Linked DNA regions of Homo sapiens: region 1 is linked to region 2. Evidence: fine-mapped expression QTL. Tissue or cell type: whole blood. Region 2 holds a variant in brackets; the other region holds the start of a gene. All regions are shown on one strand. Distances are from middle to middle. Region 1 holds the start of ZNF608 (zinc finger protein 608). Region 2 overlaps ZNF608 (zinc finger protein 608).

Region 1 (14,870 bases), 99 kb after region 2:
TGAGCCAACGCCCAACTTGACAGAGAATGGCCAACACTACAGGATCCAAGCCCCTGGATCCAAGCCTTTGAGGGGCCCCTGTGCCAACTCCAGTGGCTAAGATTGGTGGCACAGCTTCCTCTGGTATAGGATCAGAAGTGAATCTAAATTGCAGTGTGCTTTCTTCCCTCCCCCACCCCAGATCCACCATGACTTGTTTGCTCTTCATTTATGTAATTCATATTTATCACATTTATACTGCTCTAACTGAAGATGAGTTGCATGTATATGAATAATTTAATTCTTCCATTCTTCACCCAGTTTCCTCTGTGACTGGAAAGTGAAAAGAACACACAAAAACTGGAGAAACGACACCACGCTCTAATCTCAGTTGCCATGACAGCAGCCTTTTAGATACTGAAATGTTCCGATTGCCAGCTAAACAAAATTGTTGAATGTGAACATTTGGCTGGAAGATTAAAAGGCTAAGGGGAATGCAAAAGGGCAGTACCTCCCACATTCCAAGCAGCCAGTGAATCCAATCAAATGGCTCTGACTCCTTAACCACAGCCATTGTGAGCACTGGATTAGGGCAATTCATCTAGATAGTTAAAGCAGATTAGAACTGCAATTTGAAGACTATTGGCAACAAAAGTAAATGCCCTACTGTACTAAGTAATAAGAAGATTTCAGAACACCTTTTAGCGGAAATAATGTGAAACTACACATTTAAATATAAGACTCAAAACCCGGAATTTTCAAAAATTCATTTATATTCATTAATGTACCTGACCAAGAGGATATGAATTTATAAGCGTTTGGAGGCATTTTGCAAATTTGGCATTATCTACACCTTAATGTGCCTCTATCAACTTTTAAAAATCAAAACTTTACTCCTATACTCCAACTTAAATCCTGAACACAAAAACAAGAATATAAAAGTTTAAGTAGCAGTGAACCATTTTACACAGAAATAATTCTCCAAAGACATATTATCACCACTTACAATCCCAATCGCCAACTATAGCAAAAAAAAATCAAAATTATTTAATAAGGATGTTCCCCAACAACCATGCCACAACCCACATGACAGAAAGCTTGCTTCTGCAAGGCACAACCTGTAGAATTAATATGAAGATTAATTTCATAGAAATATCACACACACACCCCTAACTCCTTCCCAACCTGCCTAGTGGACAGAACACCTTCTGTTCCCAAACATTAGTCAATGTGGTCTATGACTAAGCAGCAAAACATGGTGTGGGTGTCGGGGCAGGCAGTTCTTCCAAGGCAGTGTCTAACTATAGACTTGTACAAAGAAGGGGAGAAGGGTCCAAATGGTCTAAATCAACCATCCACACCGTTTAAATGCAGCACATAATTCTATATTCCAATTCACTCAACCGTCTACATCCCCTTTGGCTACATTTTCACATTTCACGAGTATCAGTCCAGCAAGTCTGTTTTATTCTTCTTAGCAGCCGTCCAGCTCCCCAGTCAGGTATCCAAGTGATAACACTCTTAAATCTCTAGCTAAGAACTGGGTGAGGGAACAGGGGTAGAGTGCTAACAGCCACCAAAACCATCGAGTTTTTCTGCAGTTATGAAACCAATGACCCAACACATCAAGCTTGGGGTTTCATTCAGGACCAATAACAAGAACTCATTCAAGGATATCCTTTCACAGTACTATTTTGGAGACAGTAAGAAAAAATAAAAGGGATGAGGTCTGTAGAATGTAAATTCGAATCCTCGACATTCCTCTCCAGGGAGGGAACTTGAACCTTGCACCTAAGGACACATTACCCGCAATACTAGGATGAATAAATTAAAATAGAAAACTGTTCCCCTTAAGGAAGAAAGCAGGACAAGAGTCAAGAGGGTGCATGAGCAGGTTTTCTATTAAAAGCACACGGCAACCTGCTGACTAGTGAGGAACCGATCTACAGGGCAAAAGGTACTTAGAACACTCAGGCCCTCCCACCTGGGAACCCAAACACTAGCATCACAAGCAGCAGCAGCAGCAGCAGCAGCAGCAAGGACAGCAGAAGCAAGAGCCAAACACTGCACCCAAGTAGGCTCCCCCATATCAAATTTTAATATAAAGGATGCATATCATAGAAATCTCACAAAGAACCAGAAAGCATAAAGTGTAAGGCACACAGAGGCACACCCCCACACACCCACACAAATGCACACAGAGGAGAGTAGGACATCTAGGAAGGCGACTTTATCCTACCTTCTCAGTTTTCAGTTTCTTGATTCGCCTGTGGCTCTCCTCCTCCTCCTCTTCCTTCTTTACCAACATAGAGTTTCCCATGAGCCCTGAATCCGGGGCACTTTTGCTAACTTCCCCTGCAGCGGCGACGCTGCCACTCCCAGTGCCCCCGCAGTGGAAGGGGCTCGCGCCACCTCCATTGCTCTTGGCCCCAAAGCCATAGAGGTGCCCCCCGGAAGGGGCCTGGCTGCCACTGCCATTCTGGTGGCCCTGAAGCAGGTCGTGCTTGTCCTTCCTGGATTTCCCCGCATCCTTATCCCGCTTGGCGCCTCGGCTGCTCTGGCTTTTACCTGGCTTCTCCTCTTTGCTTTTCCCACAGGAGCCTGCCCCCGCGGTGGCGGCAGAGGTGCTGGTGCTGGTACTATTGCTGTTTGGGTTGCCGCTGCCGCCGCTGCTCACACTTTGACCCAGCGCTGAATTCATGCCAGTTGCCTCTCCAGGGCGCCCTTGGACTTCCTGCCTCTTGCCAGTGCTGCTGATCTCGGGAATCCCATACAAGGCAGCAGAAGGCAGAGATTTATTAGCATCCTTAGAAGTTTTACTCCTTTTCACTTTTGATTTGCTGGTCTCTTTGTGTGAATTCCCCTGGGGAGCAGAGGCCTGAACAGAAGCAAATTTTAGGCCATCAGCTAAGGCTGCGGTAGCACCAGCCCCACTGGAGGCCGGACCTCCACAATCCTTGGAGTTGCTGCTACTAGTGGTGGTGGTGGAATTATTCATCTCAAATTTCTGTCTGTCCTTCTCCAAATCAGCGTCCAAATCAATTATTAAATTTCCAACCCCGATTTCCCAATCATCGCCACTGTCATAAGTATCAACTGTATTTGGATCCACACCTTTTCCTGCAGTAGAAATGTTCACTGACATCCTGAAGATGAGCTCTCTAGAATAAAAATCCGATGAACTTTTCTTTGGAGATGAGGGGACATTCGTTTATCTCCGCTGGGCTTTCTCTCAAAGAAAAAAAAAATCTTCTAATCTTCCTCTTCTTTTTCCTGCCCCACGAATGTGTCCAGGGATTTTACACCCTCAGTCCAGGTCCACCTTTTCCTGTGAAGGGGGGGGGAAAAGTCGAATATTTCTTGTCTGGGTGTTACCAGAATAAAAAACGATTAGTATTGGGGAATCAGTAAAGGGGACAGGGAAGGATGGAGAGTAAGGTGGCTCATGTATTGTCCTCACAGTCCAATATCAGGTTTAAAGGAAAATAACCAAACCCGAAAAATAAACCTATGACAGTAAGCATCTTACGGTAGCTAAAAAGAAAATCCCTTTATCAACAACACAAGGATAATCACCTTTTTAAAAGCATTAAATTATCTTAAGGATCTGATTCAAGTCCAGAAAGGTTTTTGTGTTCTTTTTTAAAGTTTAGGATTTCAGTCTGGCACATGTGATATCTCAACCCCAGAAACACAGCCTGAACACTCAGACAAGAAGGAAGAACACAGCTTTAAACATCCCTAAACATGTCCTAGATCTTGCAATTTAGAAGACCAGACCCTGGAAGTTCTGAGGCTAGTTTTCAGAATAGAATGTTGCTAAATTTTCCTTATTTCTAATTTAGGTTTCAGTACTTCTTTTTACAAATTGTCTGGGCAATCTGTTTTTTGTTCCTAGTAAGGAACAGAAAAAACAACCAATAACTGCCCCCAACACACACACATACCTCCCTCCTATCCTCTTTTCCCAAACAGCTTCTACAATTTCTTTTTTGAAATATGCATGTCTTTTAAGAGCATTTCTCTCTAGAAAAGACAGTGTTATATAAAAAGTTAAATACCTGCCTTTTGAGAAAAAAATACATTTAAACAATTCTACCATATTCCTAGGTCAGAGAATTGCTCACTCTCTTAAATACGGTGCTACTGACTGTACAGAAAACTGATTAAGACATACACTTTAAGTGATCTGCGCCAAGGTGGCCTCAATGACCGCAAATGAGTGTGTTTGACAAAGAGCAGTTAAAACGGTTTTTAAAGGGATCAGCCCCTTTTTAACAGTTGATTGTCAAGAAAAAAATAAATAAATATACATACACACACACATACACACACACAGACATTGCTTACCTTTTAATCCTTTATCATTTTTTAATTAGGCCAGCAAATCAAAATGCCTTTCCCACTCCACTCGGCAAACAAGCCTGTGCCTCATTTTACTTAAACACCAAATGATCAAGAAGGAAGAAACCAAATAACACATCTCAGCCAGAATAATCACTCGATAACATTATTCCACCTCCCCACCCCCCTTTTGGCAAACGAATCAGTCCTTTTCTCCTTAAAAAAAATGTGTCACTGTACAGCTGGAAAATAATGTTTCACATTCACAACAGAAGCACCAAAGGTTTTTTTTTCCTCTTAACAAGCATCGAGAATAATAGTTTTTTAAAAAACAGAGAGTTTAGAGAAAAAAGTTTTCCCAACTTCTCATTCCGCCTTCAGTTCCAGACTTCAGAGTCACCGTGATCAGTAATGATCCCATGTAGCAAACCTACAGGCGTCCGCTAGTAACGAGACAGAATGTGCTAACATCGGGATAAATTAGTGAAAGGGAAGAAAGAATAAGAAGAAAGGACTGAAAATCTGGGCTGGATTCCGCCTGTTAGTCGGGAAGTGGCATTTTTCCGCCCGTCCTGACAGATTTGATTTCTTGAACTAACTTAAGAGAAAAGGAGGGGGGGAGTAGAGGGAGGAGGAGGAGAAGAAAGGGTGGGATGAGAAACTGGGCAAGAGGAGAAAAAGAAAGGTGTGGAGGAGGAGACAGCAGATGATTCAGTGAGCTGATAAACCAGTTATAACAGCATTCGCTCGGGGCGGGGGGCGGGGGGCTTGGGGCGGTGGGGTGGGGAAAATAACGGCGTTTAAAATGGGCTCAGTCTTCGAAACCTAAAGGATGTGATGTTTTCCTGTCTTATGTTGTTTTAAGAAAAAGGAACTGAGTTCCTAGTATAGCTCCCGAGGGGAGTGGAATCCTCTGTCGCTCAGGTCAGCCAGTCATGTGGTAATTCGATAATTAGAGTCAAAATAAGGTTTTTGTTTTCTTTTTTTTTTTTTTTAAGGCGACCCTTTTCGGGAGTTTTTCCCTCTTATACTCGCAGCAAACGGTGTGTCTCCCTTTTATTTATTTTTTCTCTCCTCTCCCTTCGCCCAGCCCCTCCTGTGTTTAGTCAGATGGCCCCGGAGCTTGGCTTAGTATTTTTAATTAGCTGGCGTTTGGAAGCTAAAAGCAGTAATGAATTGTTGATGGATTGGAAGTGGAGAGTCGCTTTGCTGGAAATGTCGGGGCTGGGAGAGGGGGATGGGCGAGTTAGTAACAACCAACCATCTAAAAGGAGCGATTTTGTTACAGTGCAAGCCTTTCACATCACGTGAGGATCAAGGGCTCAATTGGTTGTCGTGAGAACAAAAATGGTGACAAGCGTATCAAGAAAATACTGATCTGGTCTTTAAAAAAAAAAAAGCTGAAAGTCTCTCCCCTCCCCCTGCACACACTCCCCCAACCTCCTCCCCCCGCCCCCCCGCAGTGGGCGAAGCTACAAGTTATGAATGTGAAACATTTCTCGGAGATCTAGGATCTCCGAAGTTCGGAAGGAGCGAAATGTAATGAGCACAAGAGCAAAGCAGATGTTTTAAAGAAACACTTTATAAACCTTTCCTCAACTTATCTCCAATTTGTCGGCTTTCCCAAGGGGCCAGGGACGGGGACGCCTGGGGGAGGGAGAAGGGTATCTCCGAGCTACTTGGATTTTAGGGACCCCCACTTCATGTATTAAACAAAGAAAAACCTTTTGCTTGCTCCCCAGCCTGGTCCTGTAATAAATACACCATTGTTACTATTTGTGGGTTTGTTTGGGTTGGGTGGGGCTTTTATTTTTTCTCTTAATGGTATTTTTGTTGCTTGCTTTTTTAAGGAGATGGCGAATGGTAATTATAACCATTACATGTAATGAGTGACTATTCCCTTGTTTAATATTAAATTATCGGGCACTGGGATCTGACAGGAGACAGAAATCGGCTTGTTCTGCCCTTGCCCCCATTTTCCTGGATCGCTTTGGGAGGGGGGTCTGCCCAGCTAGGACAGAAGAGGGAGGGAGTAAGGTGAGCTAGAGAATTGACACTGCAGACCAGGATATGCAACTGTGTCACTTTTATTCTCCTTTGGGTTAGAGCCCAAAAGCTAATTTCCTCTAAGTTACCCCGAGTGCCCAGTCAAGCTTAATTTGTGTGAAGTTACAAATGCTTCACCCTCCACTGAATAAAATTCACCCTTCTTGGGTTGTTGTTCTAAATGCAAAAGCCAAACCCTGTAACTAGTTCCTCATTTCTATGCATAAAACTCGCACATTCCCCTGCATGAAGTCCCCGCTAAGTGCTATATAGAGACACACCACGCAACCGTACTTACGGTCTGTATTGGATCGAGTTGACCTTTTCCTTCTAACTGCATTGAATGTGTTTGGTTGCAGCCGCTTTATTTTGGAAATTATAATCTCTTCAACAAATTTATTATTAAAGAAGATGGACCATCAAATGTCACAGACCGTCCTGTGTATTTTTTATAAAAGCAAAAATTAAAATTTAAAAAAAGCAAAACAAAAATCCCCCTGGTGCACACACACAACAAGCTTGTTCTGCAACACTAAATCAGGACTGAAACACAACACACACACAGGGGGAGTGGAGCAAAAGAAGCTCTCAGCCTCTATACCTGAAAGGGACTTTTCTTTGTTCCCAGTGCCCTTTCGCATCGGGCCAATCAGAGAGCAGCTTTTATGAAACTGGGCTCTCTCATTGGCTAGCTGCTTTCTCTTGGCTACTGTAGGGGGTTGAGATATACACACGTATAAAACACACACTGAGAGCGGGTGGGGGTGCTGTGGGGGGTGGTTGTGGAGACAAAGCGTTTTATTTTCCAACCAGATTGGGGTTGAGGAACCTCCCGCAGTAAGAAGGCAAAAAAATGGTGCGCCCCTTTCAATTACTACATCATTCACATAAAACACTTATTTATTAAAACAAATCTCAAACAGGCTGCGAGGAGAGGATGTCGGTAAATACAAGTTTGATTGTGTTATCTTGGGGGAAATAATGTATGTGATCGCTCGGTGGCAGAGAGAAGCCAAACGAGCCGCTAGCGCGTAGCGAAGAGAAAAGGGAGGCTGGCTGTGTGGAACTGACTGCGAGCATTTTGCCGGCTTCCCTTCCTTGTTCCAAGGACTTCGCAGCCCAACTCCCAAGACTGATTTTCTGTATTGCAGCTTCTGGCTTTCAACCCTCCCCCCACCACTTTGCCCTTCCTGCAGTTTTTTTTTTTTTTCTTCCCTGTGTCTCTCTTTTTACTCGCTGATTAAATAAGAAAAATCGATCTGCGGGTAAAGGCGATGGTGGGGAAACAAGTAACCCTTTTGTTTCCAGGGCTCTGGTCTACAGGCACTGAAGTGTGAACGCAGGCGACCATTTAACCAACACTATGTGAATGGTTCTTCCCTGGAATTAGTAACAAATCTTTTCCACCTGGTGTTATGTGACTCCAAAAAAGAAAAACTTAATATTAAAATAAGGCCCCAGCTAAACATAGTAACACCTCGGGCCAGCCTCATCTTTTAAAAAATCGACTTATGAAAGTTAAATGTACTAGGAAGATTAACTGTTAAACAGTCCCAGTACACGTATTTAAACTGTGGAAGGGTCAGAATTCCTCTTCCCCCATATCTTTAACCCCACTGGTGGGGAAGGGGGCATCATGAATCCTCTGAATGCTACATCTACAATCCACAAACACAGAAATATTTTAGAATTTATTGTAGGACAAATGCCAGCAACCAAGTTAATGAGACTCAGCTCATAGGATAAGAGAGGTTAATATGAAATAACAAGTTTAACATTTTACTATAACAGCTAACATATTTAAGCTAATGTATTTACATATATTAAGCCTTTAGAGTACATTTAATTTTTAATTTTTTATTGTTACCTTCATTGTTTTTAGAAGCTACAATATGGACATTTGAAAGTCAAAGGTTACTGTAAACTGAAAGCATCATGATCCCAAGTTTTAAAGATCCAGTACTACTGGGATTGTAATTTCCACGTGACAATTGTAATTTAAGGTTGTGTCTTAACTGAGTCATATGGACATGTAAAGTGAATGAGTGCTAGCAGAAGACAGCTTCTGATGTAAATATTCAGTGATGACTTCGTGGATCAATAAAAATATTTATGTCACATATTTTAAATAATGGCTATTGACTCATGTTTGAGCTTTCAATATATTTAGTCCATAAAAAAATTGCCAATTAGCTGTTTCACTACCATAAATGAACTAGATTTGAGGCTGCAAATAGTAATAAACAGCAGTTTCCACCCTTTATTGGGACATATAAACCAGAGGAATGCAATCTGTACTAGTCCTTAGCTCTCCCTAAGTCAATTTGTATTCAAATCAAAGCTGTACTTTAACAAATAAAATGGGCAAATTAGGGATCTGATATCTACCTAGCCTCCATTTTAGCTTTGAGATTTGTTTTATATTTTTGAATATACAGATTTTACATTTGTGTATGCCCCATTGATAAGAATACAGCACCATACTGTTTTTTAACTTTTCTTCTTCTAAAAGAGTGATTTCTCAAAGGATCAGATCACTCTTGGGCACTTCCTGTGTCCCTGGGGTGTCATCTACATCTCAGCCTTTGGAAGCCCATGCCTACCCCATATGTTATATTAGTTTGGAAATAATATATAGGTAGTTCTTAAAAGAATGGGACATTTAAAAATGAGACCTAGTGAAGCTGGAGAAGATTGGAGTTCCTCCAATACAAAACAAATTACAGCGTCTGCAGCACAGATGAAGTCTAACTAAAACCAAAGTTTAGGGTTTGTAATAATCAAATAATCTAATCTAACCCGAGCTTCAACACTTAAACCCAAACCTTAAACCTTTCTGAGAAACCCTACTGGCCCAAGATGAAGGCTTAGGCCCGACTCTACCACATATTTAACCCAAACCATTTTGATAAATTAAAGTATTTCCTTCCATTCCAACATCTCCACACTCCATTTACACCCCACCCCCACCTCCTTCCTCCCAGGTTCTTCCAGGAGACTTTTGAATAAACCAGTGTTGTCAGACTGGCTTTTCTTGTGTTTGTTTTGTTTTGTTTTGTTTGACAAAGGGGCCAATCAAAAGGCATCAGAGGACCATCAGCTAATTGATGACTGAAACTAAGACAATTAACTACCAGTTTTGAAAATCAGAGCTACTCCTCTCACAAAATTGGGAAGTTTTCTGTATTTATAGAGATGAAAATGTTATCTTAATCTCTCATCAAGGTAACTAGGAACCTATTTGTCACCATTCTAATATCCACATGCATATACTTCATAATATCAATACACTACTGTATAATATAAGCACTATGTAATTTTACACCTTAGTGTCTACTCAGAGATGTGGTAGAAAGGAGGAGATGTCAGGAAATGAGTATTTGGAACAGAGGGGTGGAAGGAGCATGAGGATAGTGTAAAAGGGGCATTTAAAAAGTATCATCCAGCTCTTTGGAGGCCGACGTGGGCGGATCACCTGAGGTCGGGAGTTTGAGACTCGCCTGACCAACATGGAGAAACCGCCATCTCTACTAAAAATACAAAATTAGCCAGGCGTGGTGGTGCATGCCTGTAATCCCAGCTACTCGGGAGGCTGAGGCAGGAGAATTGCTTGAACCTAGGAGGCAGAGGTTGCAGCAAGCCGAGATCGCGCCATTGAACTGCAGCCTGGGCAACAAGAGCAAAACTCCATCTCAAAAACAAACAAACAAACAAACAAACAAAACAGTATCATCCCCCTCCAACAACCTCCACTACCCGCTCCTTGGATCTCAAGATCAGCTCTGCCCCTGCTTGTACTACATCATTGTTAAGGTCATCAAAAGGTCCCTTTCCTCCTTTTTTAAAGACAGACGATCTCAATGCTGAGGAGGCCAGGGGCTTCTAGCAGTAACACAGGAAAACATGGTGATCTTTCTTTGGTGCCTATTTCCTCTGATTTAGGGTATATTATTAAAGATCAAAGATTATTTCTTGGGCTAGGCCCAGTGACTCATGCTTGTAATCCCAGCACTTTGGGAAGCTGAGGCTGGAGGATCGCTTGAAACCAGGAATTCAAGACCAGCCTGCTCAGCATAGCGAGACCCTGTCTCTATAAAATTTTTTTTTCTTTTTTTTTTTCTTTTTGAGTCAGTCTCACTCTGTCGCCCAGGCTGGAATGCTGTGGCACCATCTCAGCTCACTACAACCTCCACCTGCCGGGTTCAAGGGATTCTTCTGCCTCAGCCTCCTGAGTACATGAGATTACAGGTGTGCGCCACCACGCTTGGCTAATTTTTGTATTTTAGTAGAGACGGGGTTTCACCATGTTGGTCAGGCTGATCTCAAATTCCTGACCTCGTGATCCTCCCGCCTCAGCCACCCAAAGTGCTGGGATTACAGGTGTGAGCCACCGTGCTCGGCTACAAAAAATTTTTAAAAAGTTAGCCAGGCGTGGTGGCACATGCCTATGTCCTAGCTACTCTGGAGGCTGAGGTGGGAGGATCATTAACGGCCAGGAGTTGGAGGCTGCAGTAAGCTATGATCATACTGCTATACTCCAGTCTGGGCAACAGAATGAGAACATGTCTAAATATATATCTATTTCTCCAGTTTTTGTGTATTTGTAAGGGAGTCTATTCCTAGGCCTACCTTTTCTATATTTATGCCAACATTGACACTTGAGATCTACTCAGGATCAAGGGAAAAAGTGGAAAACAAAGTTATAAAAAATGAAACCAACATGGAAATGGGGTTAATTTATAGGAAAAAGAACTTAATTTAGACATAATGAGAAACTTACTGGCTATCCCAGAGGATTATGGAGAAAGATTCTTATCTCTCTGGGTTTGCTTATCAACAGGATGGCCTCAAGGCAGTGGGCAGGTGTCCTGCCCTGGTTTCTAGGGAATACAGTTGATGACTTATTAAACACCCACACAAACACAAGAAGGTCTTTGCTTTTTTTCCCTACAGGTAACATCCTGACTTGCTAAAGGTCCTCTAGAAAAAACACTGTCTCTACTTTTTCACACCTGCATGCTAAATCCAATTTAAGTTTCTGGGTAGTACTTTAAACAATATCCATTTCCCAGGCTGGATGTGGTGACTCATGCATGTAATCTCAACACTTTTAGAGGCTGGGGTGAGAAGATGCCTTGAGCCCAGAAGTGCAAGACCAGCCTGGGCAACATAGGGTGACCCCGTCTCTATATAAAATCAAAAAAACTAGTCAGGCAAGGTGGTCTATAATGCCAGCTACTCAGGAGGCTGAGGCAAAAGGATCACCTGAGCCCAGGAGGTCGAGGCTGCAGTGAGCCATAATCACGCCACTGCACTCTAGCCTGGGCAACAGAGCCGGACCCTGTCTTTTTAAAAAAACAAAAATATCCATTTCTGGATAACTGTTGCCAAAAGGAGACGAGCAGTGTTGTTCTTGGTCAAACATTTGACGTTTTGCATTATCCTGAAATATCACTGGAACAAGACAAAGCACTAAGAGCCTTGTCTACCGTGGAAAGAAGGGCCCCTGCACACCATAACATTTCAGGTCCTTTTGGGGAGCATGAAGGGTCTCAGAGAAGAAAAACATCAACAATGTTCTCCCTGCCATGAAAGACTGTGGGACATTTCCAATATACATTTTGTAAATACGACTATTTACACACATCGTATTACTCTGCTATGTTAACTTTTCAAGATACTTCTATGCCCTATTAATTCACCTTCAGTTTAAATTCCTTAGAGTATAACAAAAAGACCCTCCACCCAAGGGAGGGAAAGTAATAACTGTCTTGACATGTCTTTACAATACAGTTTACCTTAAACAAGTTGCGATGATATAGAGCAAATATTACGTGAATTTATTTAAGACTACAATGCATTTAATTAGTAAAGCAATATAAAGTTGAAGAACTTTATATACTTATAAACCCTCTATGTTTATGTAATTCCTCATATAGTCTCTAATCCTCCATCTTAAAATAATCAAAATAAAAAGCAGCAAATTGTCTTTTTTATGCCTTGCAGCTCTAGAGAACCTAGCAAAATATGGCAAAACAATGTGATCTTTAAAGGAAAACATTTGTATACTGCTCTCATTAAGAGAAGTGCAATGTAGGTCAGTGTTAAGTATCTGAAATTGTACCTCCGCTTGGCTCGGGCTTTTGTGGTGTGGTGTGTGCAGCTATATCTGAGTGGGTGCTCAAGCAAGGTCTGAGGATCAGTTAGCAAAGTAAGGCAATTTACATCTCGTGTAATGAAACCATTTCTGGAAAAGGATTTTTCTTTTATGCCAGCAGAGACTGGCTGCATAAAGAAGATCAAAACACAAGCTACATTAAAAAAAAAAAAAAAAAAAAGAACTACTTATTGGAGATTTCTGTTGCTGGTTTTATTACAATATGTATTTTACAGATTTAGGTAATAGCCCTGATTTTTCAAATCGACCTCTGTTTAGACACGTTTCACTTTCGGCTGTTTCTTGTCTGTAAAATTACAGTCATTTGCACGTTATTACAGTGAGTAGGAGACAGATTGTATTTAGCATTGGGTGGGGGAAGGGTTATTATGGGAAGTGATCTGCTAAGGTCAGCACATAATTTCAGCCTGAAGAAAATTGCTTCTGAATGGCTGGTCTGTTAGCTAGCCAAGGAATAGTCACTGGGAGAGACTGCAAAATACTTCTGCTTAATCTGCATTATAGAGTTATTCTCATTTCCAGATAGATGGCCCGTAGATACAGTGTTTGTAAAACTAAATTTAAAAACTTGTAGGTGAAATGTTGTCACTGCTCTATTTGAATTCAAAACAATTACAACAAAATGCAATACGATCAAGCACAGGAAGATCAAGAGGCAGCAGGATCCAGCCATTACGTTCCACTCCATCTTTCTCCTTTGCCTCCATTTCTCTGCTTCTTCTTTTGTCATTTTTAAAATCCTTATGACTTCATGACAGTAGATTTTTACATATGTGTAAAAATTGAGAGCAATACCAAACACATTGATACATGTATCTCCAACTTTCACACATATATGACTGCAGGAAAACAAAATGCCTAAATTAGTTTCTTTTTGGAGAGTGGCATAATTCCCTCAAGTGTGAAAGCACTAAATATACTTTTGATGCTAGAATTTAAGGATTTTTTTCACATTTTATAAAAATATATTCTATTTGTGCACATTTTCTAAAGCTGACAGAAGAACAAAGCAGTGATACTTATCAGAAACAGTAACCCCTGCCTAATTTTAATATTTAAATCCAACCCTTATGCATCACCTGGGAAGTCTTAACATATTTGGTTAGATGAAATCAGGAGACCAAAGTTTATTTTAAAGAAGAATAAAAGAGTTCCGTTATACTCGGCTCCTTTGGCTGTTGAATATCACTTTTGTTGTGAACAACTGTGCCTCTTTTGTTTTCAAAACAAGCTTTCCTAAAGAATGAATCACTACAATCATTTGGAGAATATGCAATAAACAACAGAAAGCCAGAAAGTTGTTTTGCTATTTTCTCAGCAGAGCCTTTCCTCCCCTTCCTCACAGCTCAGCGGTGCCTCCAGTCCACCAGCCAATCATCATTATGGAAATGTGGTTCTCAGCCCCCTGATTGGCTGACTTCTGGTCCAGGATGTTTAAGGTTTCTACAGCTCATCACATGCATTGCCTGCCAGACTGCTCTGTGGACCTTTTTCTACTATGAATATTTTAATCATCTTTTATTTTCCTTTCTTTTCCTTTCTGTCCTTCTGTCCTCTTTTTTAAGATTCTTAAAATCATTTAAGGAAGCACCTTGTATTTTCTTGCAAACACCTTTAAAATGTAATGATCTGTTAAGAATAGAGTTGAATATACGAGAACATGTTTTCTAACCATATTTTAATGTTTTCTGTTTATTTGGGTTTTAATGATGTGTCTTTGGATTTTAGAGGGGTCCCATGAAAGTTAAATGAACAAACATATGCTTTAATTTTTATAATTCTAAACATAATGTCTCCCAAAAAGAATTTTATTGAGATATTTACAAGTCAAAACATTAAATTAAAAAACCTTTAATACTGAAAAGTAATCTTTCAGGTAAAGGAGACAATGTATTTTTTCATAATTAAAACATTGCCTTTTATTTGTAATTTTAAAAGATGTTTTAAACATTAACACTCTTGGCCGGGTGCTGTGGCATACGCCTGTAATCCCAGCAGTTTGGGAGGCCGAGGCAGGTGGATCGCTTGGGGTTAGGAGTTCGAGACCAGCCTGGCCAACACGGTGAAACCCCGTCTCTACTAAAAATACAAAAATTAGCTGGGCATTATGGCAGCTGCCTGTAATCCCAGCTACTCAGGAGTCTGAGGCAGGGGAATCACTTGAACCTGGGAGGCAGAGGTTGCAGTGAGCCAAGATCATGCCACTGCACTCCAGAACTCCAGTCTGGACAACAAAGCGAGACTCTGTCTCAAAAAAAAAAAAAAAGGAAGTTAACACTCCTATAGTGTATTAAGGATGCACAACTCTTTCAAGCTTGTTGTT
Region 2 (15,437 bases):
AAAGATTCAGAAATCCCCTTTTCTGGTTTCTCTATAGAGTTTCTGGTAGACTCACACACATTGCAGATACTATTATTTTAATTTACTTTAAACTCTTTCCTAGCCAAGCACCATCCTATTTTTGTTTAGTCTCTCTTCACAACAGTCTCTAGGACTAGAGCAGTCACCTTTTTTGGGGAAGAGCCATCTTTCACAGACATTGTATTACTTCAGCAGAGTTAAAGGGACATGACAAAGAGTCAAGGCCAGAAAACAGCAGACACAGCTCTCACTCCTAAGCCACATGACTTACTCTTGCAAATGAGCCTCACACTGTACAAGGCTCAAATTTGTGCCTTATTACATGTCACGGGCACTCAGCTTTGCTCGTGATGAACCCCCAACCATGAACACTGATGATGTGAATATGAAGGGTCAATACAAGTAGCAGAAACCTCAAATCTCTCCAGAAGTCAAGTTAACAACAAAGATAAGTGATGCAGATTAGGGAGCTTCTATTTATATCCATGCACATTGATGGGGAGCAGCACATCTGCCTAGATGGGGCTACTAGTTCCCATCAGTTACTGCCATGTCATTTTGAACCAGATTTTCTATTGTCTTTTTTTTTTTTTTTTTTTTTTTTGAGACAGAGCCTTGCTCTGTCGCCCACGCTAGAGTGCAGTGGCACAATCTCTGCTCACTGCAACCTCTGCCTCTCGGGCTCAAGCAAATCTCCTGCCTCAGCCTTCTGAGTAACTTGGATTACAGGTGCCCACTACCACTAGGCTACTTTTTGTATTTTTAGTAGAGACGGAGTTTCACCATATTGGCCAGGCTGGTCTCGAATTCCTGACCTCAGGTGATCTGCCCGCCTCGGCCTCCCAAAGTGCTGGGATTACAGGCAGTGGCTCACTCCCGGCCCAGATTTTCTATTGTCTTAAGAGAAAGAGGTGATCTGAACTTGCATGTAAAATGTCTGATTTTTAAAAGGTATCCTGCAAGAAAACATTTTTTGAAAAGCTTGATTTGCCCAAAAAGTCAACAGTTTGTAGCCTCTGAACTACTTACTTACCAAAATTATATAAAATATACTCCTCTGTTACCTAATTCCTCAATGTCTTATCAAACATATTTTGCACCAAAAGTTGGTTCCTATGAATTTAAATTTCCACCTAACAACCATCCTCCTGGGTAAGCAAGGTATACTAGATTTTGCAACAGAAAAGCTTGCTACTGCCATACGTGCTTTAACAATTTTCTCTCATGTGTGAAAGCGTCTTACTTTTGAACGCTCCATTCTTTACGTATTAGGATAAAACAGCATCCTGAAATCACAGCTGGGTTCCGAAACCATTTATATTTCAAGACTGTTCTCTAGCTTGTTCCCCTTTCTCCCCAAATCACAGTACTTTTAAATAACAACAAAAGGAGGCTTACAGCAGGAGACTTGCTGCGGTATTGGTTAGCATGCTGCTGGAGCAAATCCAGTGCTTTAGATTCAGTGGTTGTTTTCGTGTTGACGCTAGGGCTGGTATTGACTTTCTCTGTCTCTTCTCTCCCTGACATCTTCCCATAAACAGGATAATGAAATCCTGGAGAGAGATATGCCCCTGCAGATAAACAACAAATGCCACATCAAGTTACAGGCTATATCTTTAAAAAAAATCATTTGGGTTACATGAATTTGGGATAAGAGTCAAAGAGATCTTAAAATAGGGGGTTACATTAAGAATGGGCTACATCATCATTAAACTGTGTCTAGCTTCTCCAATTTTCTTCTCCCAGTTAATTCATCCTGATGAAGGGAGGTTATAAACAGAATTGAGCTTATAGCCATTTCATACATTTACGTGTCCGCTTAAGTGAAAGGAATAGTAACTATAATGATTATGACAGTAAGTGCTTAGAATATTTTTATAGGCAATAAAGTATCTGTCAGCCTAACAGCTATAGCAGACCATCAGAGACTATGGAAACTATGGCTGAGGATTCTTGACATTTCATTAAAAAAACTTATATTAAATCAGTTTTATCTTTGGGACTTTAAACAGCATAAAAACAAGGAAAACAAATGTCACTCTTGAAGCTTCTAATTTATCTTGAGTTTTTAACAGCTAATATTTGAACATCGCCTCTTTCCTCCAATATAGTCAGAACCGACAACACGTACCAGGATAACTGTGCATTAGGACGGGAGAAACAGCCCGGTATGCAGGATGGCTGGGGTCGTACATCTGTGGGTAAGGATAAGCATGCAAGTACTGTATGTATGACTGATGCTGACTCATGGGTGAGGAGACAGCCACTCTTGTTCCCCGAGAGTCCTTCCAGTTCACAGGAGTCTTTCGATCATCATTTTTCAGCTTGCTCTCCTCCATTGATTGAGAATCAGGATGCTTGGCCTCTTTGGGCTCCTCTTTAATGCTTGTTAACGATACAGGAAGGCTGGGCACACCACTCTCTTTATTAGGAGTTTTCCTCGGACTATCCTCTTTTAATTTCTTCTCTCTATCAAGTTCTTCTGACTTTTGCTGATCCAGATATTTGGGCTGGTATACATAATGATGCCATGTTCTTGAATCTGGGTCCTGATTTTTTTGTTTTAAAGAAAAAAAACCCAACAGATTTGTTTTAAAATTTCAATTTTAAAGAAAACTTGTTAATAATCATGACAGCACTAGCACTCTTAATTTTAATGCTAAGTTGACATTTATTTCTGTGCTAGACACTGTGCTAATTGCTTTACCTCCTTCTCTTACAAAGTAATAATGTCCCAGGTAGGCATTATTACTGATCCCCTGTACAGAAGATAAAACCAAAGTGTTTAAAGTTCAGGCAACATCAAGGTCATGCTGCTGCCCAGTCGTGGAGCTGGGCTTCAAACTCAGGTCTGCTGAAATTCAGAGCTGGGCCCTTAATGTCATTTCTCAACACTAAATAACATCCTCAGACATATTTAATTCTGTCTTCGTTTGCCTTTTAATATCTCACACAGGTGAAAAGAATGTTAAAAACTCCAACTCAAGCTAATAATAGTAAATTTAAGTAATTGCTATAGCTATTAACATCACTTAGGAGGAAAAACTCTTGGTTTCCTAATACATTTTCCTCATCTACTGCAGCTGAGGCTTAATATATTGGCTCACTTCTCATTACGTGTTAACATCTTAATCAAAACAAAATTTCAAATTAATAGCACACGTTATGGCTTCTCTATTGGAAAACAAAGCCATCTATCTATAAACCCCCAAAATTATATAAATCTTCTGCAGCCCTGTGAATTGACAGCCTGATTTATGCCTCTGTAAGTGGGGAAACTGAGAATCCTAAATGGCCTTTGTGATCCCCATCCCATTCATGATATAAACCCACTGGGGATTCAGGTTCTCAGAGAACATGCAAAGTTGTGCCTAAGTAAATGTGTGTGTGTGGGTGGCGGTGGTGGGGGCTGGTGGTTCTTGCTCTAATGCACCAGGGATTATCTAAGCATGGGGGTGAGGGTGGGAGTGGGGATGTGCAGTGCTGGGAAATAACCAGGATTAATGCTCACGGGGTTGCAGTGGGTCAGGATGTCTGAACCATGACAGAAGGTGCTAGTACATTTGTGGTTTCGTGGTGACCAATTTTCAGGTGTTCTCAAGCTGACTGACCCATGGGGCTCTGGGACAGCTGTTGAGGCCTGCCACCCAAACCTCCTCACCCTCCTCACAAACATTCAGCACTGAGCTCTGAGTTTTGGGGTACTTAATATAGGGAGTAAGACTGAAATCTAGGCATCTCTGACCCCATGTGAAAGAAATTTGGGCCCCAAATTCTATTAAAAAGATTAATGGGAAATGTGAATTCAGGGACCCAGTTTTTATTATCTTCAAAGAAGATGCTAGTAGAAATTTGAAAATGGAAAATAAATATTTCAGAGATAAGACTCAGAATCTCAGAGTTAGAAGAGAATTCAGCAGCCCCATTGTGGAAAGCCCTCGCCTTGGACTAAGAAATTAAGGGATCCTGGCCAGGCGCGGTGGCTCACGCCTGTAATCCCAGCACTTTGGGAGGCCAGGGTGGGCGGATCATGAGGTCAGGAGATCGAGACCATCTCGCTAACACGGTGAAACCCCATCTCTACTAAAAATACAAAAAATTAGCCGGGCATGGTGGCACGTGCCTGTAGTCCCAGCTACTCAGGAGGCTGACGCAGGAGAATCGCTTGAACGGAGGCGGAGGTTGCAGAGAGCCAAGATTGCACCACTGCACTCCAGCCTGGGTGACAGAGAGAGATTCCGTCTCAAAAAATTTAAAAAATTTAAAAAAAGAAATTAATGGACCTCATCAGAGTCACAGAGCAAGTTAGTGGCATGAAACACAAATCTGCAAAGCACCCATCCACAGTTCCTTTTACTATACACCATGACAAGAAAATACTGATAATGTACATTTTAGAGCTACATAGTAACTCCTGAGAATCTTAAGATATTTTTCAAGAGCAGAGGAAAAAACTAATATGGGTTTCTTTCCTGTGTCAGAAGTCTAACCAGATCAAGCCCAGACATGTATAATACAAGTCTCAGACTGCTCTCTCCCTGTTGGGGCCACGCTCCACAATCTTACTTGTTTAAATCTCGAGGTTGGGTCTACACCTGTCTGCTTCATAGAGTCCATGACAGACTTCATTTCTACAGCCTCCTTAATAAGCTGGTGGTTTTCCATCTGCTTAGCTTTGAAGCTGTCGGCCTGAAGCTGCTGCTGGTGATTGGAGAGAAGCTGCGATTTACCTGTCTCCTCAGTTTTATTAGGCACTGATGGCCCTAGTTTAGAATGGTTTTTGTTAGGCTCCGGAGTAGAGGGAGCTTTTGAGATTGTGGCCGATGGCATATTTTTCTGTTTAGTTTCCTCCTTGCCCAGCTCTTTCAAGGGGAGCTCACTTTTCCTTTCACAGTCTCCTCTCCCAGTCTGGGCCATTTTCTGCTCTGCCAGCCTCTGGTCCTCATAGTACTTCTCATACTGCTGTCTATAGGCAGGGCTGGTGGCCATCAGAGACTTCTGGTCCATATAGAGCCCATATGCATACTGGCCATAATAAAGTGACTGAGCCAGGGCAGGATGTCTTTGTGTGATCACCGACTGGTGCTGAGGCTGTAAGGATGCAGAATTGTGGTCCACTTTCTTAGAATCTAACTGCTCTGCCTTGTCTTTCTTTTCAGCATCTTCCTCAGACTCCTTCTTGATCTTCATTCCCTGCGTGCTCCCACTATTTCCAGCTGCAGGGGCACCGACCTGCCCAGGGTGCATGTAACTTGGAGAATAATAAGGATCATAGCTGTGGTAATAGGGAGAATGGGACTCTTTCAGTTGAGATGATTGTGCTGTAGTTGAAGAATGCCCTTTTACAACACTGTCCTTACTAGAAATAATATCTGATGGGGAACTGGCCTTTGATCTCATACCCTCCGACCTGCTGTCAGAACCACCATCGTCAGCAGCATCAGATATGTCTGAATAGGCCGGGCTGCTTGTCTTTGCAGCTGAACTCTCTGCCCCATTCTGGGTCAACACATGCAGAGGTGCCATTGGTGCCTGCCCGTTCACCAAAGTGCTGCATTCCAGCCTCGAGGCGCTCCCTATGGAAGGGCTGGGAGCGTTGTCTGTGAAAGTGTAAACCTTATCGGCCTCAGCTTTGATACTGGCCATGCGGCTCTCCTGAGACTCCGACAGTCCATTTGCCAGCCCTTCATTCTTGTTGAGATGATCCTTTAAAAAATGCCCAGGTAAATCTTTGCTGGCCCCCTTGGAGTCCTCTAGTTTCCCCAGCTTGGCATCCATTTTTGGGCTTCCCGTCTCTTTCCCTTCTTTGTCCTTTAGCTTTCGCTTCTCCTTTTTCTTTTTGTCTTTGAGTGACACCAGAGCTGGGTTCACGGTGATGGGCTCTCCCATAATTGTGGGCTTTGGTTGAATGGGTTTTAACGGAGGACTCTTTGGTGTAGCCTGAACAACAGTTGTTGTGAGGGAGGGCAGTCCGGGTATTGTCCCAGTGGTGGTCGTTGTAAAGGTTGCAGTGGGTATAGCGATTAGCTGCGGGGGAGTGGGGGCTGGGGCAGGGGCAATGGGCCGGGCACTTTTCAGTTTAGAGAGGTTTTTGTCCGTTTTGCAGTTGGTAGCTTTTTTGCCCTTTTCTTTATCTCCTAAATTTTTCTTGTCAATTAATCCTTCTGCTTCCAGTTTAGGCATCTCAGCAGCCAAACTGCCGTCTGCTGCCGAGCAACTGTCTAACGCAGCCGTCATGTTGGAGATTACTGGAAGGTTGTTCAGTTCATTGTTAAGGCCCTTCTTTTTGCCAGAATTCTTCCCAGCTTTAGCACCAATAATGGAACCTGGGCCATTGCTCATCAGCTCTCTCTTTCCCTTTGGGGTCCCAGGTGGGTTTCCAGCACCAGGGGATGCCGGTGCCTTCAACTGGTCATAAGCAGATACACTTGTGCTTGGCTCACTGCATTCAAGTGCCACATTACTCAATCCTTCCTCACAGTCCGAGATCTTGTCCTCACTGTCAGGCTCGAACTCCAGCTTGTTTTCTGGGTCTAAGTGTGCATGAGCCTGGTGGTACCTCAGGCCGTTAATGTGCTTGTACTTTTTGTTGCAGTTTGGGTGGGGACAGTCGATTAACACTGGAGAAGAGCAGCCTTGGTCCAAAAAAGTAGTCTCTGGTTTCCCTTGAGGGGTAGTGGGAGTGCTTCTGGAATTTGTGCGGACACGCTTTCCAGGCTTATTGTCCTCAGAGCTGGAGTTCAGGTCCAGCTCCATTGGAGGCTTGTTTTTCCTTTTGTTGGTGGAGGAAGGGCTGGCTTTGATATCCTCAGCAGCACAATTTGGGGGTGTCCTTCGTCCGCTGGCATTGAGGCTGCCCCGCCTCCCTTTCCCATTGGCCCCCCCTCTGTTCTTATTCTGCAGCCCTCTGGACTCTGTGAAGCTGGCCTCGGAGCCCGGGGCAGCAGCAGCAGACCTCGCTCTCTTCCCTCTGCCCCGGCCCCCTCTCATCTCCAGGTCACTTGTCGGTGACTCACAAAACCTATGGAAGCAAGTAACAGATGTGAAAATGAGCATCCCCAAAAGAGCCAGGTGAAATCACAAAGTACACAATGCAGTAAAGAGGAGTCAACACTCCAGTAGCTTCAGGGCTGGGCCCAGTCAAGGAAAAGACTGACAATTTCCAACACCTGCAAAAGAACAGGCGACCAAGGGCTTATATTCTTCCTCAGAAAAACCAAAGAAAAACAGCTCAAGTAGCTAGCTTCCAAACCAGTTCAAATTCCCACTTTGAGAAAAAATGAAAACAAAGACAGGAGAGAAGGGGTGGGGAGCAGAGATCTTCTGATAGAAAAGAAATTTAGCATCTGCATTTTACTGCGTTCAATCCTAAATTGCTCATTTCTCCTTTGCCTGGTTTCAATTACAGGCACACTTTTATGTATTATGAATCTCTCTCTACAGTTTCCCTGCAAAGAGAGGATGGGGAAGGAGAGAAATAAAAGGCCCTGTTCATACCTGGGAGGGGCCCAGTCGTGCTTGGTGCAGTCCAGTAGGGTTCCCACGTACGTTTTGTTCCTCCACGTGACATTGACCACTAGGACACCTGCAGGAGGCAGGGGATGAAAAAGGATCATAGTTACCACTGATTACTGTTATTTCCAGTTCACTTATTATTT[T/C]TTTCTCTTTTTTTTGCCAGCAAGTTCTATTCTCATTTGCTTTTAAAAGCTGTGGTTTGCATTCTTCCTCTTTCTGGTTTCAGTGACCTCAAGTTAAAACCCACAGGAAATAATGTGTGTTGTGCATTCGTGCGCGTGCGCATGTGGTACAAAGGAGTGAGACTGTGTGTGAGAGTGTAATCAAGATACTGCTGACAGAAGGAAATGGTTTTTGCCATGTCCTGCTGTAAAACAGCAACACTCACCTCTTAATTTTTCTATTATTACACATAATTGCTTTCGTTTGGCAAGCAGCCAATATAAACTAGCGCCAGTTACCAGTGCTTAAACCAGAGGGTGACTGAAAGGAATCGGTTTTGTTTCCAATTCAACAATATAAAATGATGGTGATTTTTATTAAGAAAAAATAATTATGCAGGTGCATAAAAATAGGCATAGACAGGAGAGTGGGGACTCAAGAGTCCAGATAGCAGACAATCAACTACGATTTCACTTCCCTAATCCTCCCCTCTTTGACTTTGTGAGACAGTAATCAGCCTGGGTACCGTATCTGTTTCAGTGTTTGGTTTTGTTTCATATTAAGGACTCCTAAAATAGCCCTCTTAAGAAAACAAATGTGCACAATAGATTTACTCTTGGGGTTATCTTTGGAGTCAACTTTGGTACGCATTTGCCTCAGAGGATTAGAAAAGAAATCTCAAAACTAACACACTCGTTTCCTGCAAGCCATTCTGCTTTTTCCAACTGCTTTTCAGACAGACAATTTAATTTAGCACTGCATCTGTGAATTACTAAACTTAAGTGTGCTTAGTATACCAAATGTCACAGAGAAAATATAATATCCTCTTTATTTCTGAGAGGACAAATGCCAAATTACAAAAATCACTTCTTTAAAGCATATTTTAATAGAACCTTGATTTTGAGACATACATAAATTATTAGGGTAAAGAAATAAAATATTTAACTGAGCCTTTGTTTTCTTTTCTGCATCTACCCCTACTCTTTCTTGGAAGCACCAGAAGACATTAGTCAAAATCTGTTTCTAGCTAGTTTGCTCACTTGCATTACCATTGCCATTGTGAATTTTACAGAAAACCTGTAGTGGGCTCCTTTACAGTAAGGGAAACCTGACAAGGTAAGACTCATTTCCTTGGGAACCTTTTAACAGCAGGTAAAATATTTCAATGGTTGGGACTCAAGTAATGGAGAACGATTTCTTTCCAAAGTCTCAAAAGGAGATTTTAAAATTGTTTCCCATATGGTCTATGTTGCTATTACTTAGGCAACAGCTGAATTATTTACTCTGTGTTAATTCAGTGTACTGTAGCAATAGGCTAGCAGGGGAAAGGCTAGGATGGAGCAAAGCAAGTATTTCCTCAAATCATAGCTGATTCCAATGAAATTCCCTCAGGAAATTTTTTTAAAACCATTGTGTATAAAATTTCCTATTGCGATGAGAATCCATGGTAATTAGGCATTTGGTCAAAATCTGCACAAGACAGAACAATTGGAGGAAAGGATTCTTTATGAACACATCCCTTCAGGAAAGGGGAGGGGGTGGGAGAGGAGGCAAAGGGGAAGACTGAGCTGGTTTTCTCATCATCTTCTCTCTGGGGCACTGTGTGTGGTGTCAAAGACCTTTGCAGCTGCTTAAAATTCTTTAGCATGTCAGCTATATTTACAGTGCAGGAATATATCTGTACTGCCAGAAGGTTACTGCATTTTAGCTTTAGATCCAATAGGCTGAATCACTGCGTTCCAGAGTCCCTGATGTAGCACAAATATATAATTAAAATTGCTTGAAAGGAAACATGAAAGAAACAACAAACCTTCCATTCTTGCAGTAATAAAATTAAAAACAGGAAAAGTCTGCACAGACACTTAACATTTGTCTGCAGTGAAAGGCTTTTGTTATTGCTTTTCCCCTAAGGGTTTCGCGTTTCCAGAGAACGCTGGCCGCGGATTGGCCGGCGCCCGCTGCGAGCACTCGCGTCTGATTGGCTGGGCCGAGGCGGCCGCCCGGAGCACAGAGGCAGCGGTCGGGTAGAGGTGAGCGTGGCGGAGGCAAAGGGACGCATCCCCCACGGCGCGCTGGCCGTGCGGGGCTAGAGGGCCGCCTGCGCTGCTCGGCTCCCTCGGTGCACGCGGGACACAGGCTCATTCGCACTAACGAGTCCGGCCGTGCAGTGAAAGCTTCGGTCTGCGTGACCGTGCTGCGCTCCCCGCGCCACGCGGCTCCACACAACACGCCGGCCCACGCAGAACCCTCAGAACGAAATTCACCGTCTCAATACAGGCTCAAGGGAAACCTGGAGTCTGAAAAAAGGAAGGGACCCAGGGCAGGCAATTAATCACTGGTTATCTGGGGCCACAGGTTGAAGCTGTCACAAAGGCTAATCTGCAGTTGCAACTTCCTCACTGTAAAATTATTCACATCTCCTGCTGCTCTTTCTGGAAGCCACACAAGCAGACCTCTTATCGAAGTACAAGTGATGCCGTTGTTATTTGCACTCGGAAGGAATCAAGTCCTGGAAAGAAAAATCCATTTTCAACCTCAAAGGGCCTAAATAAGTAACCCTTATTTTTCCAGAAGCACTCCGTATTTAAAATGCTCAAAACAAATGCTTTACACCCAAGGAGATTTTGAACAGTCTCCATCAAGCAGTGCTAATTAAATATGTGTGCTTGTGTCTATCTTTCTTTATATGTACGAGCCGCTTCACAATGCCACAGAGTGTTTAAATCTGCCCACAATTCACATCCGAATATATACAGGCACATGTTTACACAGCCAAATCTGCCACTCTATATTGGAATGAAGGCTTAAGGAATGTTTCTCATATAAACTACACAGTGTACTGTTTCTTTGTAAGAAGGTCTATGTTTAGACAACACCCCATTGTGAAGGGCCAAGTATAAAGGCGGTGTTTAGGTTCTAAAACTTGTAAATGATTTATCATTTTGCTGAAATCTCAAAATCTTGAACATTTTATAACCCACAGTCACATAAAGCAGACTACACTTACTGAAGGCATAAATGCCCATGATGAAAATTAGTTCTTTAAAAGTGCAAATTTGTATTTTATAAATCTGGGCATAAAGTTCTATTTCTCACATGTGAATTGGAAATAAGTGTACACTTATTCCAGAAAGATTAGTTTCTTTTCACGCACATTTATTCAAACATCTAGCCAGTGAGCTAGGTGTTGGGGACGTTCTATACAGGTACTTTTCATCTTTATATTCAAGTATTCTACCAGGTTTATTATTCTTCCCTTTCCACCCATGGACTGGGCCTGGCCTTTGTCAGAGAGCTAATGCCCTGTAACATTTCATCTGAGGCTTATTACTAATAAAGTAAGAATACAGCTGAAGAGTACAATGGATGGTTTGAGAGTGTGCTGACCACACACAGCTTTCTTCTTTGTACTGTTAACACTTTGTCTAAGATGCTGCCCCCAAAGGCCTATTACCTACAGAACATTTAATAAGAACAAGGTCTTTATTATATAACCTGAGCCTGTTACTTCCTCAAGCCAAAAAAGCCTGAGACCTCATAAGGATTTCAGTCAGTGTTCTGTTATGTCCTTTGTAAAGGGTTTCCAGGAAGATGTCAAGCCCAACAAACACTTATTGTGTGTGTCTACAGGGTACACATTAGGTGCCTATTTAGTGCTATGGAATCAACCATGTTTTACTTGGAGCTCCATCCAAACTCTGTACTTCAAGAGTCTGTGCATGAAAAGAACAGAAGAGACACAGGCATACACTGTGATGCACAAGTGGAAGTATAGTTTTGTCTATTACCTGCATTTTTACAGTAGGCCCCTTATGCTATCACGTCAGGCTAGACCCTGGATTTCATGTTCATGGTGCCCCCACCTAGACCAGTGATCCTAACCCTGCCCCCATCTGACTGGACCAGTGATGGGCACCTGGAGCAAAGGCAGCCAGCCCAACAGGGACTTATGTTGGGAATCTGAATGAGAAATATGGAAGTTCCAAAGAACTGGCAATAGGAGTAGAAGCCTAAAGCTTGCAAGATAGTAAGAGGCGTAAAGAACCATGATGGGCCAAAGTTCCAAGGGCGCAATAGCTATAAGACCAGGAAGCCAACTGCACTGTTGGTGCAACACCCTCAGGACTTTGTGTGCGTGTGTGTGTGTCCTTTTTCTCTCCAGCTTCATCACTGATAGAAGATTTCACCAGCACTCCCCCAGGATTGCCTATTTTCCAGCCATCTTGTTAAAAAGTTGTTCCTTGTGTTAAACTAAATTTGTCTTTGAATACCTTGGTCCTGGCTGAGCCTCCTGATACCCTGCAGATGCAGTCCACCCATCATCCACTCAACAGCCTTTCATCCAGGCAAGGATAATGACCATGTTGGCATTCTCCCCACCTCCTGCTCACTGTCTTTTTCCTATTTTTTTTTAATGAGATGGGCTCTCAGTATGTTGCCCAGGGTGGTCTTGAACTCCTGGCCTCAAGCAATCCTCCCCCGTCAGCCTCCCAAAATGCTGGGATTACAGTGTGACCCACCACACCCAGCCTCTATGTCTTCTTTACTCTCCAGCCTAGACAAGTTTCTTCAACCGTTCTTCATGTCACATTTTTAATTCCCCTAAAAGAAACCTTGAAGATGCCTTAGTCCAAATCCCTAGGGAAAGTTAAAGTTCCTAATGAATTAGAAGCAAATGGAGACAAATGCAAAGGTTCTCACTTCTGTGAATCCTTGCCCTAGACACACGCATACCAGGCACACTGCCAAAAGACAGCCATTCTCTCCTGGATCCCCACAGCACTGCATACACAGTTCTTGCCCTGATGGAAACGTACGAGCCATGTTTCCCTCCCCTTTCTGAGCTCACAACTAGACTCCTTCTCAGCCTCCCTATCAGTCCGATGCAGCCATGTGACTGAGTCCTACAGAAAGCAAGTGAGAGAACTGATGAATGTGGGCCACTTCCAGGCCTGGCCCATAAGAACCTCTCATCCCTTTCTGTCTGGCTGCAATGGAAATGGCTATTGTGATCTCGAAGTCCTCAGGATAAAGGTGGCAGAGTCTCCTTCATCTGGGACCCTGAATGACAAGGAGAACTTCCCAGGTCTGAACTTAAGGCTATTTGTCCTACCGTAATACATGGCCCCCATAATATTTTACTCTGCTTGTATACACAGTATGCCTAACTCTTCCAACTAGATGACACTCCTTGAAAATAGGAGCAGTGTCTGCACCCACAACCCCTGGCGGCACAGTGGCTACCTAATAGTGAGAATTCATTAAACACCTAGGAACTAACTACACGAGGACTGACGAGAGAGAGAGTCTAGACTGAATCCTACTCAGTGACTTCCTTTTATTACTACCATACTTTTTCAATAAGCATAATCTCCCACTAGTTTTATAGATGATAGACATTCTCTGTGGAGAGGCTTTGCTCCCAAGATGTTATAAATGTGGTTTATGAATTATTATTTCTGGTATTTGTGAAGCTGTTTCCTCAAGAACGGGGCAAATGCCTGATTTCCCAGTGGATTGACATAATTCTGTTTGTATTGAGTTTAAAGACTGCTTCAGAGTCTTTAAAGTGCCTCATCCCCGGGACAGAAGTCTTTGCCAAGCATCGCAAATGCTGAGTTTGGAATCAGACAGAAGTTTTTTTGAACTCTCTCAGACTACCACATCTGGATGCATTTGATGTGCATCCAGGCAGAAAACAGAAACCTCATTCGAATAACACCAAATGGTAACCCATTCATGCCATATGCCTTTAAAAAAGAAAGTTTACACATTTCTTTCCTTTTATATATTTTTTTCTAGTGAAACATTGGTGACAAAATGTCACAATATGCTGATTTCATGAGTACAGGATAAAATTCATATATTTCAGATATCATATTACCCTCCATTTTTACACAACGTGACTATTGTGCAAGGTATGATTTATCACCATTTCTTTGTTCAGGACTCCCTCCCCCCATTATTATGTTGTCGTCACTCTGTGGTATTCAATACTGGTACTTTGTAAAGGCTGAATCTTGTATAGCACAAGCTTCGCTGTTCCAGCCTCGGAGCTTATAACCTTCAGACAGATCCTTCTTCAAATATAATTATTTGGGAAAATTTAAAATGTACAACTAAGGTTGCTCATAAAATACCTGCCAGCCAAAAATCAGAGGGACTTTCCCATTACCTGTGCCAAGTATATATAGAGCACTAGGACAGGAAAAGTAAGTGTTGTCACATGACCATAAAATGCAGTATGTTTTTTTTTTAAAGAGCCCTACCGCTGGGCTGAATGTTTGAAGAGTCACTTTAAACACATCCTGTAATCAAACCATCTGGAACACAGTGCTGCGATTAGTCACCCTGAACATAGGGCTTTATCTGAACAAATAGTGTATGGCAATGGAGCTTGGGAGATAGGGCAGTACTAACAAAAGGAAGTGTAATGAAACACTTTATGCCCTAGTGTGCCGCCACCCCAGTCATAAACCCCAGAGACACACTGCTCTGGTGTTAATGTACTACTTTATGAAAGCACAGTGAGCTTAAAGATTAAAGGACTGAAGGGCTAAAAATTGCTGGTTTGGATAGATCTTCTCTGTCAGCGGCTGGAATATGTTGGCATCACTCTATCTGCGTTAATTATAACCTCTCAGATGACAGTTGAGCATTCCTATTAGGGTTTGGTGTTATTTTCAGGGCATTAGGAACAGGGTTTGTTTATGGGAGGGTAGTTACGATTCTTGGTTTGCCAGAGGTTAATCTGAACACAGACTTGTTTTTGGTTCATCTAAACCCAATCCACATACAACGACAACAAAAAATGAAACCTTAAGCAATAACAAAAGCAATGGAAAAATGCTGTTCTACTCTGCATTTTAAAACATGATAATCTTTCTTACTTGACTGTACTTATCTCTTTCAAAAGTACATTTGGTCATTGGTATACAATCTATGGAAATCCTTTTTTAAAAAAAAAATCTGAAAGGATTTTCCCCCTAAATACACAGAATAAGCCCTAAACACACACACACACACACACACACACACACACACACACACACACACACACACAGCTAAAGAAACCTTGTTTCCCCATGGGCCTTATGGTTTAATACACAAAAGAACACAGAGCCACTTCCATCACTGTCACCTCCCCTGCAGCCTTTGTTCTGAGGCCTGATGAGCTGTATTGATTTGGGAAAATCATTGAGCTTCTTTGGAAAACTAGACTCTCGCTTATTCACTGCCATCTATTTCTTTCCCATGAAGACAGGTGGTCAATATCCAGCTGACTGGTCAGCTAAAAGAAGCCCAAGCTGCTTTTTTCTTGCTTCCCTAGTAACATTATCATTTCCCACTTCTAGAAGATACAATGGCCTGTTAAGGAGTCTTGTGAGTAAGAAGAGGGAGCAGAAATAAGACTTTTATAAGGCACCACCGGTAACACTAAGATGCTGTCCCATATGTTCACGTGGGAGGCTGCACCGCACATATAGATGGTGACGATATTTTCACTGACCAAGTTTAAGCATCAGTGAAAACTTACAGGGCCCAAGATATAACATGAAAAGAAATACTAAATCAAAACAGATCATTAGAGACCAGGTGCAGTGGCTCACGCCTGTAATCCCTGCACTTTGGGAGGCCGAGGCGGGTGGCTCACGAGGTCAGGAGATCGAGACCATCCTGCCCAACACAGTGAAACCCAGTCTCTACTAAAAAATAAAAAAATAAAAAAATAAAAAATA

The links. PIP is the estimated chance that this variant, and not a neighbour inherited with it, causes the effect.
Region 1: ZNF608 starts here. The variant in region 2 is fine-mapped to the expression of ZNF608 in whole blood (INTERVAL, PIP 0.97).

Annotation. Positions count from the first base shown.
Region 1 is chr5:124,741,866-124,756,735 of GRCh38, forward strand. ZNF608 (zinc finger protein 608) reads right to left here and starts at 4,774. Exons shown (of 10, transcript NM_020747.3): 1 at 4,330-4,774; 2 at 2,219-3,307. The coding sequence starts at 3,124. RefSeq lists enhancers at 288-982, 1,626-1,675, 2,066-2,145, 2,206-2,275, 2,373-3,066 and 5 more and a silencer at 6,892-7,131.
Region 2 is chr5:124,642,092-124,657,528 of GRCh38, forward strand. ZNF608 (zinc finger protein 608) reads right to left here. Exons shown (of 10, transcript NM_020747.3): 4 at 7,519-7,606; 5 at 4,588-7,042; 6 at 2,153-2,570; 7 at 1,420-1,592. Among named protein-coding and RNA genes, the nearest start is that of ZNF608, 97 kb to the right of the region's middle. RefSeq lists enhancers at 6,422-6,930, 9,943-9,992. The variant T/C (reference allele first, on the strand shown) is at 7,680.